4 separate regions of the Homo sapiens genome follow, and all the other regions are linked to region 4. A link means that fine-mapping ties the variant in region 4 to the plasma level of a protein whose gene starts in the linked region. Region 4 holds a variant in brackets. A gene starts in each other region. All regions are shown on their forward strands. Region 1 holds the start of GAST (gastrin). Region 2 holds the start of PYY (peptide YY). Region 3 holds the start of GIP (gastric inhibitory polypeptide). Region 4 overlaps LOC101929710 (a long non-coding RNA gene).

What was found. PIP is the chance, under the fine-mapping model, that this variant and not a neighbour inherited with it causes the effect. Protein levels are from antibody-based Olink assays in UK Biobank. Linkage for the fine-mapping came from a reference panel and not from the study's own genotypes, which makes the PIPs less certain.
Region 1: it holds the start of GAST, and the variant in region 4 is fine-mapped to the plasma level of the GAST protein (UK Biobank, PIP above 0.99).
Region 2: it holds the start of PYY, and the variant in region 4 is fine-mapped to the plasma level of the PYY protein (UK Biobank, PIP above 0.99).
Region 3: GIP starts here. The variant in region 4 is fine-mapped to the plasma level of the GIP protein (UK Biobank, PIP above 0.99).

The regions. Positions count from the first base shown.
Region 1 is chr17:41,710,786-41,713,532 of GRCh38, forward strand. It overlaps GAST (gastrin), which reads left to right and starts at 1,546. Exons shown (of 3, transcript NM_000805.5): 1 at 1,546-1,602.
Region 2 is chr17:43,952,771-43,955,517 of GRCh38, forward strand. It overlaps PYY (peptide YY), which reads right to left and starts at 1,170. Exons shown (of 4, transcript NM_001394028.1): 1 at 1,080-1,170; 2 at 526-713; 3 at 339-419; 4 at 1-210. The coding sequence starts at 713. The coding sequence ends at 186. RefSeq lists an enhancer at 205-708.
Region 3 is chr17:48,967,435-48,969,934 of GRCh38, forward strand. It overlaps GIP (gastric inhibitory polypeptide), which reads right to left and starts at 1,162. Exons shown (of 6, transcript NM_004123.3): 1 at 1,083-1,162.
Region 4 is chr5:96,437,452-96,440,198 of GRCh38, forward strand. All of the region lies in intron 4 of LOC101929710 (a long non-coding RNA gene), which reads left to right. It also overlaps a transcript of CAST not described here and the pseudogene LOC102724070. Among named protein-coding and RNA genes, the nearest start is that of PCSK1, 5.6 kb to the left of the region's middle. The variant G/T (reference allele first, on the strand shown) is at 1,654.

The DNA of each region.
Region 1 (2,747 bases), not on the chromosome of region 4:
ACTGCTTTTTGTCGTTTTCATTTATTCCATCTGCTGAGTCACCGTGTCCTGCTCTAGATGAGAGTGGTTATTCACAACGGTTATTCAGCCGTCAGTTGCCATGGACACCGCACAGCCTGCTTCCTTCATCACCCATTAATTCTCAGCAAGGCTGGCTGTAAGCATGGGTACCACTGCAGTTACCCAATACCCAAGGGGATCAAACTCTCCCAGAAAAGGTGGGGGCCCAATGACGCATGAACAGGAGCAAAATCTCTGCTCTCAACAGTGGAAAAGTAAAAAACAGCCTACGGCTCATTACATCTGGTCAAACCATGTGGAGGCAGCAGTTTATCAAATAAGTCAACAAGGTACCATTTTGTTTTCTGGTCCATCTTTGGCAAATGCTTTAGTCTGTTTGCTAACCATTTGAAGGTATATTTTGATACTGAAAAGTTGTTGGCTGGGCATGGTGGCTCACGTCTGTAATCCCAGAACTTTGGCAGACTAAGCTGGGCCGATCATGAGGTCAGGAGTTCGAGACCAGCCCGCCCAACACGATGAAACCCCATCTCTACTAAAAATACAAAAAATTAGCCAGGCGTGGGGGCGTGCGCCTGTAATCCCAGCTACTAGGGAGGTTGAGGCAGAAGAATCGCTTGAACCCAGGAGGCGGAGGTTCCAGTGAGCCGAGATCACACCACTGCACTCCTGCACTCCAGCCTGGTGACAGAACTAGACTTTGTCTCAAAAAAAAAAAAAAGTTGTTATGCAGATTACTAGCTCCCCTTGAAAGCAAAATGAAGGAGGCTTCAAAGGCAGGACCCTCCAGGAATTGGTTCTGCATAGGGGGTTTGCAAGTGGTGGTGCATGGGCAGCTGACCTAGAAGACACGGGGCAGCTACAAGCCAAACCCAGCCCAGCACAGAGGGCCTAAGGAGAAGAAGGCACCAAGGGTGTTCCATGGTAGGGGGAGGGTGAAAGGACTTCAGAGGTGACCAGGATGTGAGCCACTAGAAGGAGAGAACAGGGCCATCAGCCCACAACCCATTGCTCCTGGTAACACGTTATGTTTGCAGAGTCCAGTGGAGGGGACGGGGAATCAATACATCACCCCACATTCACACGCTTGCCAAACATCAGTGGATGGCGAAATCCACTTTCCCTGAATCTAAGCCCATCGGGTTCACTCCCTCACCTACCACCACCCACAAAGGTCCCTATGTAGTTCGAGAGATAAGTGCCAGGCCTCTGACCCCCAGGATATGGTGGGAAGCATTGCTCCTGACCCAGGGAGCTTGGTTCCTGCCCCTCAGGTACAGCTGGAGAGCTGCCGCCACCCCGCTCCAGCCCCTCACCATGAAGGTCAACTCCCCTATCCTTCCCCCACATCCTGGATGACTGACTGACACTAAATGAAAGGGCGGGGCAGGGTGATGGGCTGTACCTGTGCCCCACCCCATTCCTCTCGCCTGGACTCATATGGCAGGGTAGGGGCGGGGTGGGGGGACAGTTGGGAGGGACCTTGAGGGCTTTATAAGGCAGGCCTGGAGCATCAAGCAGAGCAGAGACCTGAGAGGCACCAGGCCCAGCCGTGGCACCACACACCTCCCAGCTCTGCAGGTGAGAAAACCCAGGAGGAGAGGGGAGAGGCTAGGAAGTGGGTTGACAGGTCCTCTCCCCCATCAAGGTACCAGGCCACTGGCCAGAGTCTGGGGCTCACCCCTTGGGGTCTCCAGAGCTGGGACCCTTTCTTTATCCCAGGATGGAACTAGGTCTTGGCTCCAGTACCTACCCTGGTATTCCCAACCTTGCCTTCCACCTGCCCTTCTGCCGCAGCCGGGGCCCTGCCCTTAGCCTATCCCTTCACACTCTTCCCAGCCCTGGGAGGTGAGGAGGACTGGGGTTCTTCTCCTTTCTCTCAGACAAGAAAACTGAGGCCCAGAGGCAAGATGTGACTTGCCCAAAGTCACAGGGATTATTAGGCAAGGCTGGGATAGGAATCCACAGCTCCTGGATCCCACTTCAAGCCCTTTCCTAGACCAGTGCCATCCAAAAGAACGTCCTATGATGCAGGAAATGGTCTTCATCTGCACTGTTCAATATGGTAGCCACTAGCCACGTGTGCGCTTGAAATGGGGTTAGTGTAAGGAAGTTTTTGTTGTTGTTGTTGTTTGTTTTTTTATATAGAGTCTCGCCGTGTCACCCAGGCTGGAGTGCAGTGACATGCAACCTCTGCCTCCCAGGTTCAAGCAATTCTCCTGACTCAGCCTCCCGAGTAGCCGGGATTACAGGCGCCTGCCACAACACCCAGCTAATTTTTCATATTTTTGGTAGAGACAGAGTTTCACCATGTTGGCCAGGCTGGTCACAAACTCCTGACCTCAAGTGATCCAACCCCCTCAGCCTCCCAAAGTGCTGGGATTACAGGCGTGAGCCACTGCACCTGACCATAATTTTTTAATTTAATTAATTTAAATGTAAAGAGCCACATGTGGCTGGTGGCTATAGCACTGAACAACACATGTGGTTAGCATCTGACAATACAGCTCCAGATCACTGATTTTTCAAACATTTCTTCAGCAGCAGAATTCTTTTCTTCCAAAGAAAACCTAACAGAAAACCTGATTATGAAAAACTTAATGGCCAGGCACCGTGGCTCATGCCTGTGATCACAACACTTTGGGAGGCTGAAGCAAGCAGATTGCTTGAGCTCAGGAGTTCCAGACCAGCCTGGGCAACATAGTGAGACCTCATCTCTACTAAAA
Region 2 (2,747 bases), not on the chromosome of region 4:
GGGAAGGACCACACACAGCCCTCCAGCCCAGGGGGCGGGGGCACCGAGACGCGGGCGGAGGGCCGCACCCGAACCCTGCCCAGACGCCGCCGTCGGGAGGCAGAATCCGGGTTTCTGGGGTCGGGAGTGCGTATGCAAATGACGTGGGCGTGGTTGGCAGATCTCCCAGGAGGCCTCAGGGGTCCTCACCACAGGTCTGGGCCCTCCGACCTGCGGAAGCGAAGGGGAAGGAATTGGATCTGGGGAGGCGAGCCTGGGAGACGTCGTTAAGTGATGTTGCCAGGGTAGGGCCAGGCCGCGCTCTCGGATGCAGGATGTGTGGTAACGGGCGCTTTTACCGCGACCTGACGGGGCGGTCCTCGCCGTCGGGGAAGAACGTTTTGGAAAGAAGCGTGTCCGGGCCGTCTCTTTTCCCATACCTGGGGGCGGGGAAGGGAAGAGCGTGGTCAGATCTGGCCACGCCCCCAGGTGGAGCGGGGCCGCAGGGTGAGAGCCCCAGGGGTCCCGCTCCGCGCCTGCGCTCACCGCTGCCGGGTGACCAGGTTGAGGTAGTGGCGCAGGGAGGCGTAGTAGCGGTTCAGCTCCTCCGGCGAGGCGTCTTCGCGGGGAGCCTCGGGTTTGATGGGGTAGGCGTCGACCAGCGCCCCTAGGCAGACGAGCAGGGCCAGAAGCACTGTGGTCAAGGCGGGCCACGGCCTGCGCACGAACACCATCTGGGAAGGCGACATTGGGACGTGGGTCATTCCAAGCCTCGACCCTACACGGCGGGAGGCTGCGGCTGCCGTCGGGGCCGCGCTCCGACGCTCTCCCTGGGGCTGGTACCGGACCAAGGCTCAGCCACCGGGCTTGCTGTGTGTTCTTGGGCACTGCACCGTCTCCTGACTCAGTTTCCTCATGTCAGAGGAGCATAAGCCCTGCCTGCCTCCCCACCCCCACCCCCGCTGCTGGCCTCCTTCCCACCTCCGATGGCCCCCTCCAATCCAGTTTCCTACCACTCACCCCCAGCTTCCACCATCCCAGCCTCAGTTTCCCCACAAAACAGCCTGGGTTTCCCCAGGCTTGAGCCCCCAGCCACTCACAGCGATAGCTTGTGAAGCAGACGAGCAGGAGGTGGAAGGCGAGGGAAGTCCCAAGGGCTGCACTGCCGCAGGTCAAGCTGAGGCCTCCTCTGCTCAGCGCTTTCCTTGTGGGGCTTATATCCCCGCCTGGAAAGGGAGGGGGAGTCCCAGGGGGAGGGGGAGCCAGCAGGGGGTGGGCCCTTCTTCCTCCCTCCTTCCACCCTCGCCAGATCGCTGAGCTTATACCCAGCCAGTGCGTGATGTCTCCACCTCGCAGGAGCTGAGGGGGCAGTTGCCATGCTCAGATTCGTGGTCTCACTGGATGGGGTACCCAGCCTGAACCCCATGTTCACCCCACAGCCCCCCAGTGGCAGGTCTAGCCTCCTGAGGAAGTGAAGCGGTTGGATCTAGACTCCTGGGGCAGCCCCTAGGACCAGGGTTGAGATTCTGTCTTCCCTAGCCTGTCCGTGGATGGGAGTTGGGGGTGGGAGGGTGGACACATTCCCTCCAGTCCGTGGGATGTGTGACCACTCTTTCCAAAAGACAACCCTTTTCAGCCTCTGTTCAGTAATACCTTGGAGAAGGGCTGAGGAATGACAGGACCTTTTGGGGAAAGTCTTTCTCCTGGAGGCAGGGTGGGAGCACCTGACCTTGGCTCCTGACCTGCAGTTTATGGTGTCTTGGGGAGAGGCCTCTCTGAACACTCCATTATGTCCTCTCTCTATTAAAGAGTTGGAAAAGAGGCAGGAGGAGGCAGAAACCAATCTCCCCGCCAGAAGCAGCTGAGTCGGCCACCTGTGTATCCAGACTGGCACACACAGACCCCAGTCCAGCCATGTGTGGTATAGAGCCCCCTCCCAAGGCAGAGTGTCTCCACCCCTATGCAGGTGTCATTCAGAGCACTGGTGTCTTCTGGGCCTGAGTGATGCCAAGGCTTCCCAGGCACATGCCACTGTCCCCAGCCCATGGCAGTCTCCACTGGGCTCTAAGCCCAGATCCTTTGAAGGAAAGGACTCGTGTTTATTAAGCACCTACTATGCACTAGGTAGTGCATAATTTCGGGCATCACAAGACGATGAGCTGAGTTTATCTCCATTTTCCAGATGAGGAAACTGAAGCCCTGGGAGGTGATGGAGCAGCCAAGCTCACCCACAATTCAAACAGGAAAAGCAGGGTGAGGCAGAACCCAGGAAGAGGACCTCTCAATTGTGAGGGGCAGAAAGGCTCAGCACCTGGAGTAGCCATTGGGGCGCCAGAGGCAGGCCTGGGAGCAGGGACCCGAAGACTAAGTCTAGGGCCCACACCCACTCTGAGAGGCGGAGTAGGGGAAGGACCTTCAGACTGCCAACCCCCTCAAACCCACCTGCCCAGGAGGAGAAAGGGCTGTGGGAAGGTCTCCCCATAAAGCCCTTCCAGCTTCCTCTCCCTGGCCTCGCCAGACCTCCAGTACTTCCAGATGTCCCATCGGCCCATAGGGACTGATGGGGCCAACTTGTCCAGGCCCTTGGTTCTGAGCCAGCCCCTCCAGCCCCAGGACAGATGGCTGTGGGCGCTATTTTTAGAGCTCTCCTGAGATGGGGAGTTCAGGGCTCTCTGTCACCATTTTATGGGTTCAATCACCTGCATTCTCCGGAAATGGCTCCTTATCAGCCAGTCAGGCCCCATGGGACTCCACATCCCAGGAAACAC
Region 3 (2,500 bases), not on the chromosome of region 4:
CTGCAACCTCCACCTCCTGGGTTCAAGCCATTCTTCTGCCTCAGCCTCTCGAGTAGCCTGGACTACAGGCATGTGCCACCACTCCCGGCTAATTTTTGTATTTTTAGTAGAGACAGGGTTTCACCATATTGGCCAGGCTGGTCTCGAACTCCTGACCTTGTGATCTGCCCACCTGGGCCTCCCAAAGTGCTGGGATAACAGGCGTGAGCCATCGCGCCTTGCCAGTTTGGACCTTTTCTAAGAGCCTGGGGCAACACCATGGGGGAAGATGAGGGGTGCTGTGCACTGGAGTTAGTGACTAGAAGGGACATGGAATCTTACCAAAAGATGGACCAGGCTGGGTGCAGTGGCTCATGCCTGCAATCCCAGCACTTTGGGAGGCCCAGGTGGGCGGATCACTTGAGGTCAGGAGTTTGAGACCAGCCTGGCCAATATGGTGAAATCCTGTCTCTACATAAAAGACAAAGATTAGCCAGGTGTGGTGGTGCGCGCCTGTGATCCCAGCTATTCAGGAGGCTGAGGCATGAGAATCGCTTGAACCTGGGAGGAAGAGGTTGCAGTGAGCCGAGATTGCGCCAGTGCACTCCAGCCTGGGTGACAGAGCGAGACTCCATCTCTAAATAAATAAATAAAGGAAACATCAGCGCTACCTTCTCATTTCTCTTTCTCTTTTTTTGAGACAGGGTTTCGCTCTGTCACCCGGGTTGGAGTGCAGTGACACAATCGTGGCTCACTGCAGCCTCGACCTCCTGGGCTCAGGCAAACCTTTCACTTCACCCTCCCGAGTACCTAGAACCGCAGGCATGTACCACCATGCCCAGCTAATTTTTTAAATTATGTGTAGAGATCGAGTTTCCCTCCATTGCCCAGGCTGGTCTTGAACTCCTGTGCTCAAATGATCCTCCTACCTCGGCTCCCAAAGTATTGGGATTACAGGCATGAGGCACCGCACCTGACTATCTTCTCACATCTCATATAGAGGAAGAGAAAACTAAGATGCCAGGGCTGCTGAGCATCTCAGGGTTGCCAAGATCCATCTGCTCTCGGGTCATCTCATCCATCCCTGTCTCCACTTCTCTTACCAGACTTCCTTTCCAGCTCTTCCAGAAGAAGGACAGATAGGGGTCTCCTTCCCCTGATTTCTGGACCTTCTGAGCCTGCTGAAGAAATCATGCCCCAGCTCCTTTATATTAGGCATAGACCTGCTGATTAGCCTAAAAGCATCTTATCTCAAGAAATTAAGCCCACAGCTCCTGCCACATTAAGTCCATTTTACACATAATAGAGTTGCCCTTTCCACCTGAACTGTGCTAATTGGTGATTAACATTTGGCTATCTCCAGCTGCTGTCTGGGGCCTGCCTGTGGGTAGGGTACCCTAAGTACCCCCTTTTTTCTTCCTCCTCCTCCCTTCTGGGCACAGGGCCCACTACTATTCTTCTATGCCCTACTTCCTTTACAGTTGCCCTCAGTTAGAAGGGATACTTGTAGGCCAGGCGCGATGAATCACGTCTGTAATCCCAGCGCTTGGGAGGACGACACGGGCGGATCACCTGAGGTCAGGGGTTCGAGACCAGCCTGGCCAACATGGTGAAACCCAGTCTCTACTAAAAATACAAAAATTAGCTGGGCATGGTCGTGCACGGCTGTAATCCCAGCTACTTGGGAGGTTGAGGCAAGAGAATCACTTGAACCTGGGAGGCAGAAGTTACAGTGAGCCAAGATCGAGTTCACTGCACTCCAGCATGGGCAACAAAGAGAGACTCTCTCAAAAAAGAAAAAAAGAAAAGAAAAAAGAAAGGGGGCCGGGCGCAGTGACTCACGCCTGTAATCCCAGCACTTTGGGAGGCCGAGGCGGGTGGATCACGAGGTCACGAGATCGAGACCATCCTGGCTAACACAGTGAAACCCCGTCTGTACTAAAAACACAAAAAATTAGCCGGGCATGTTGGCAGGTGCCTGTAGTCCCAGCTACTCGGGAGGCTGAGGCAGGAGAATGGCGTGAACCCGGCAGGCGGAGGTTGCAGTGAGCCGAGATGGCGCCACTGCCTGCCAGCCTGGGCGACGGAGCGAGACTCCATCTCAAAACAAACAAACAAACAAAAAAAAAAAAAACAAACAAAAATTAGCCAGGCATGGTGGCACGTGCCTGTAGTCCCAGCTACTTGGGAGGCTGAGGCAGGAGAATCGCTTGAACCCAGACCTGGAGGCAGAGGTTGTAGTGAGCCAAGATCGTGCCACTGCACTCCAGCCTGGGTGACAAAACAAGACTCTGTCTCAAAAAATAAAAATAAAAATAAAAAAGGGTACTTGTAGTGAAGACAGACTTGGGGTAGGGTGGCACTAACTGGCAGGGGGACACTCCCACAAGGCAACAGGCTACTTCTGGGTGGGAGAGAGTAGGTCCACAGTCATCTGAATCCCAGCTCTGGACAGTGGCCTATGGCTTTGGTGATGTGGCAATGCCCCCATCACATTATCTAGAGAGGTGTCCCAAGGGCT
Region 4 (2,747 bases):
TGCAGGCAATGCTCTTGCTTCCTCTGTGCTCTCAAACATTGCCATTTTCGTATTAAACTCTCAGTGCATAACTGCTGTCTCTGCTCCTGAAGTATGTCTTTCTATGAGAATTATAGACTTTAGTATTGAAAAGTGACCTTGAATATTATACAGCTCCTTGCTTCTCAAAGTCTTGTCCACATACCAGCATTATAGGCATCACTTGGAAGCTTGTTAGAAATGCAGACCCTCAGCCCCCACCCCAGAACTACTGAATCAGAATCTGCATTGTTAATGAGTCCGTAGTGATTCATACGCAATTAAAGTTTGAGACGCACTGATCTACTTAACATGCCTGGTATACATGACACTCCTCTGTGATATTTTTTAACAAGTTGTTAGGCAATTCCTGGTCTCCCAAAGCAACCCATTCTTTGGTTTGGATTGGCTGAAATGGTTACAAAGTCCTTCCTTATAATGATATTATAAAACCTTTCCTCATTACTACCTCCAGTCAAGCATGCTAATTTTGCCCTCTAGTACCACACTGACAAGTCTCAATCTCTTTTATACATGATAGCAATTCATACTTCGAAGGCAGATTGTTATATCTTGCCTAACTTTTTTCTGCTCTAGGTTAAACATCCCCAACCTTTTTAACACTTTGGCATTCTGCTTGCTCTTGTCCGGATAGGGTCTTTCAATAGAATTTTTTAAATGTGGCACCCAGAATAGAATATAGTATAGTTGGCCAACTAAAAAAAGATAATTTATTTTTCCAACTTTTTATTTTGAAATAACTTTATAGTTACAGAAAATTAAGAAAAAACAGTACACAAAACTTGTGTATACCGTTCATGCAGCTTTCCCTGGGGTTTACATCTGGTGTAACCATATTACTATTAGCTAAACCAAAACATTAACATTGATACAATATTCTTAACTCATTTATAGACCTTTATATTTTTCCAACTGTTCTATTAGTATATCTTCTTTTATGGTCCAGTATTCAATTAAGACTCCCTATTGCATTTGGTTATTATGTCTCCTCCAAACTGGGATATTTTATCTTTGTCTCTCACAACCTTAAAACTTTTGAGGAGTACTATTCAGTTATTTTATATTATGGTCCTTAATTTTGGTTTGTCTGGTGTTTTCTAATGATTAGGCTGGGATTAAACATTTGTAGGAATAAGTGATGTTATGTCATTTTCATTGACTTGTATCAGGAGGTACATGGTGTCCATATGTCTAATTACTAGTGATGTTATCTCTGATCACTTGGTTAAGATGGTATCATATCAACCAGATTTCTCCACTGTAAAGTTACTATTTGAAAAATAATATTTCGGTGTAAAAATTATTGACAAACTCATGATGCAGAGAGCCATAATGTAGTAATACTCTCCAAATTTATATTTTTGGAGAAAATGAAAATAATTTTACTTTCATAGACATTTATGTTTGTGATATTCATAACTTCTCATTCCACATGTCAGGAGATTTTTCTGTGAGATTAAGTGAAATAATCCATTTAAGATACTTAGCAGAAGGGTGAGGACAGAGAAATCGCTTAGTTTGCTACTATTATTAATGCTATTAACCTATCACTTTCCACTTAATATACTGATATATTTCCATGTCAATAACTGTTCACTGGCATAATTTATAATG[G/T]TTGCATAGCTTTCCATTAAATGTGTTAAGTATACTTCAACTTATCAAGTAACGGAAGACACTTAGAGTGTATCTATTTGTTTGGCTACTATACTTTCAGGTAAAGTTGGTTGATTAAATATATGTGTCTCCTTTCATGCCCCACTAAAACCCCTCAAAAACTACAAAGAAGGGATTTTTTTAAGGACATAAACTTATGAAATGGGGAGAACAGGAGTAGAAGCAATCACAAAAAATTATGAAAGCAAAAAAGCAACTAATTTAGCAGACCCAAGAAAATGAAATGTTAATCCAGCAGCAGGGAAAGCCAAGAACTAACCCTTTCTATGCCTCAGAATTCCCCATGACTGAGGAATTGGCAGGCACCAAATAACTTGACATTAGGATGCAAATAGGTTGGAAAATAAAAAAAGATTGCTTTAAAGTCTGTTTCAAAAGCAATCTTCCCCAGCTTCCCTCATCACTCTTTATTGCAGAAAACTATCCCTTTGTCACCCAGCAAAGAGACTGAGGGTGTTTTCCCCAGAGACATCAGGCACAGTTAAAGGTGGAGGCTTCACACCCCCGAACCAACTGTAAGAAATTGGTCACCTCGGGGTTGCTTTCTAGCAGGTGCCACTGAGGGATAAATAATAATGGACTGATCCTAACTTCCCCTTTGTTTCTCACCTCCCTCCAGTGAACACAGGGATTAATCTGCTTGTTGTTTAAAATAATATAATCCTTGAAGCTGTTGTAAACAAGTAGAGGAAAGAAGACCTTCAACAATTGTCCCTAATTATGGTTAGAAGAGGGACCAATCCTGATCCCAGTTATGACAGGCAAAAAAATTGTACAATCAGTAAAACTGAAAGAGAAAACAAAGGTACTAAAGCAGAAGTGGCCCACGGCACATTACTTTAAAAGTTCTAAGTAAGCTTCTGATACTGAAACTCAGGAAATAGCTAACAAAAATCTGGTTTTCTGGCTTCTCTTTATAAACTAGAAAATGTTAGTCTGGAAACAGTGACCCCTACAGTTCTCAGACACTGAGACAAAGTATGAATTTCTGCAATTATGTTTATCCCACCTTTTTTTTTTTTTTTCTTATAATG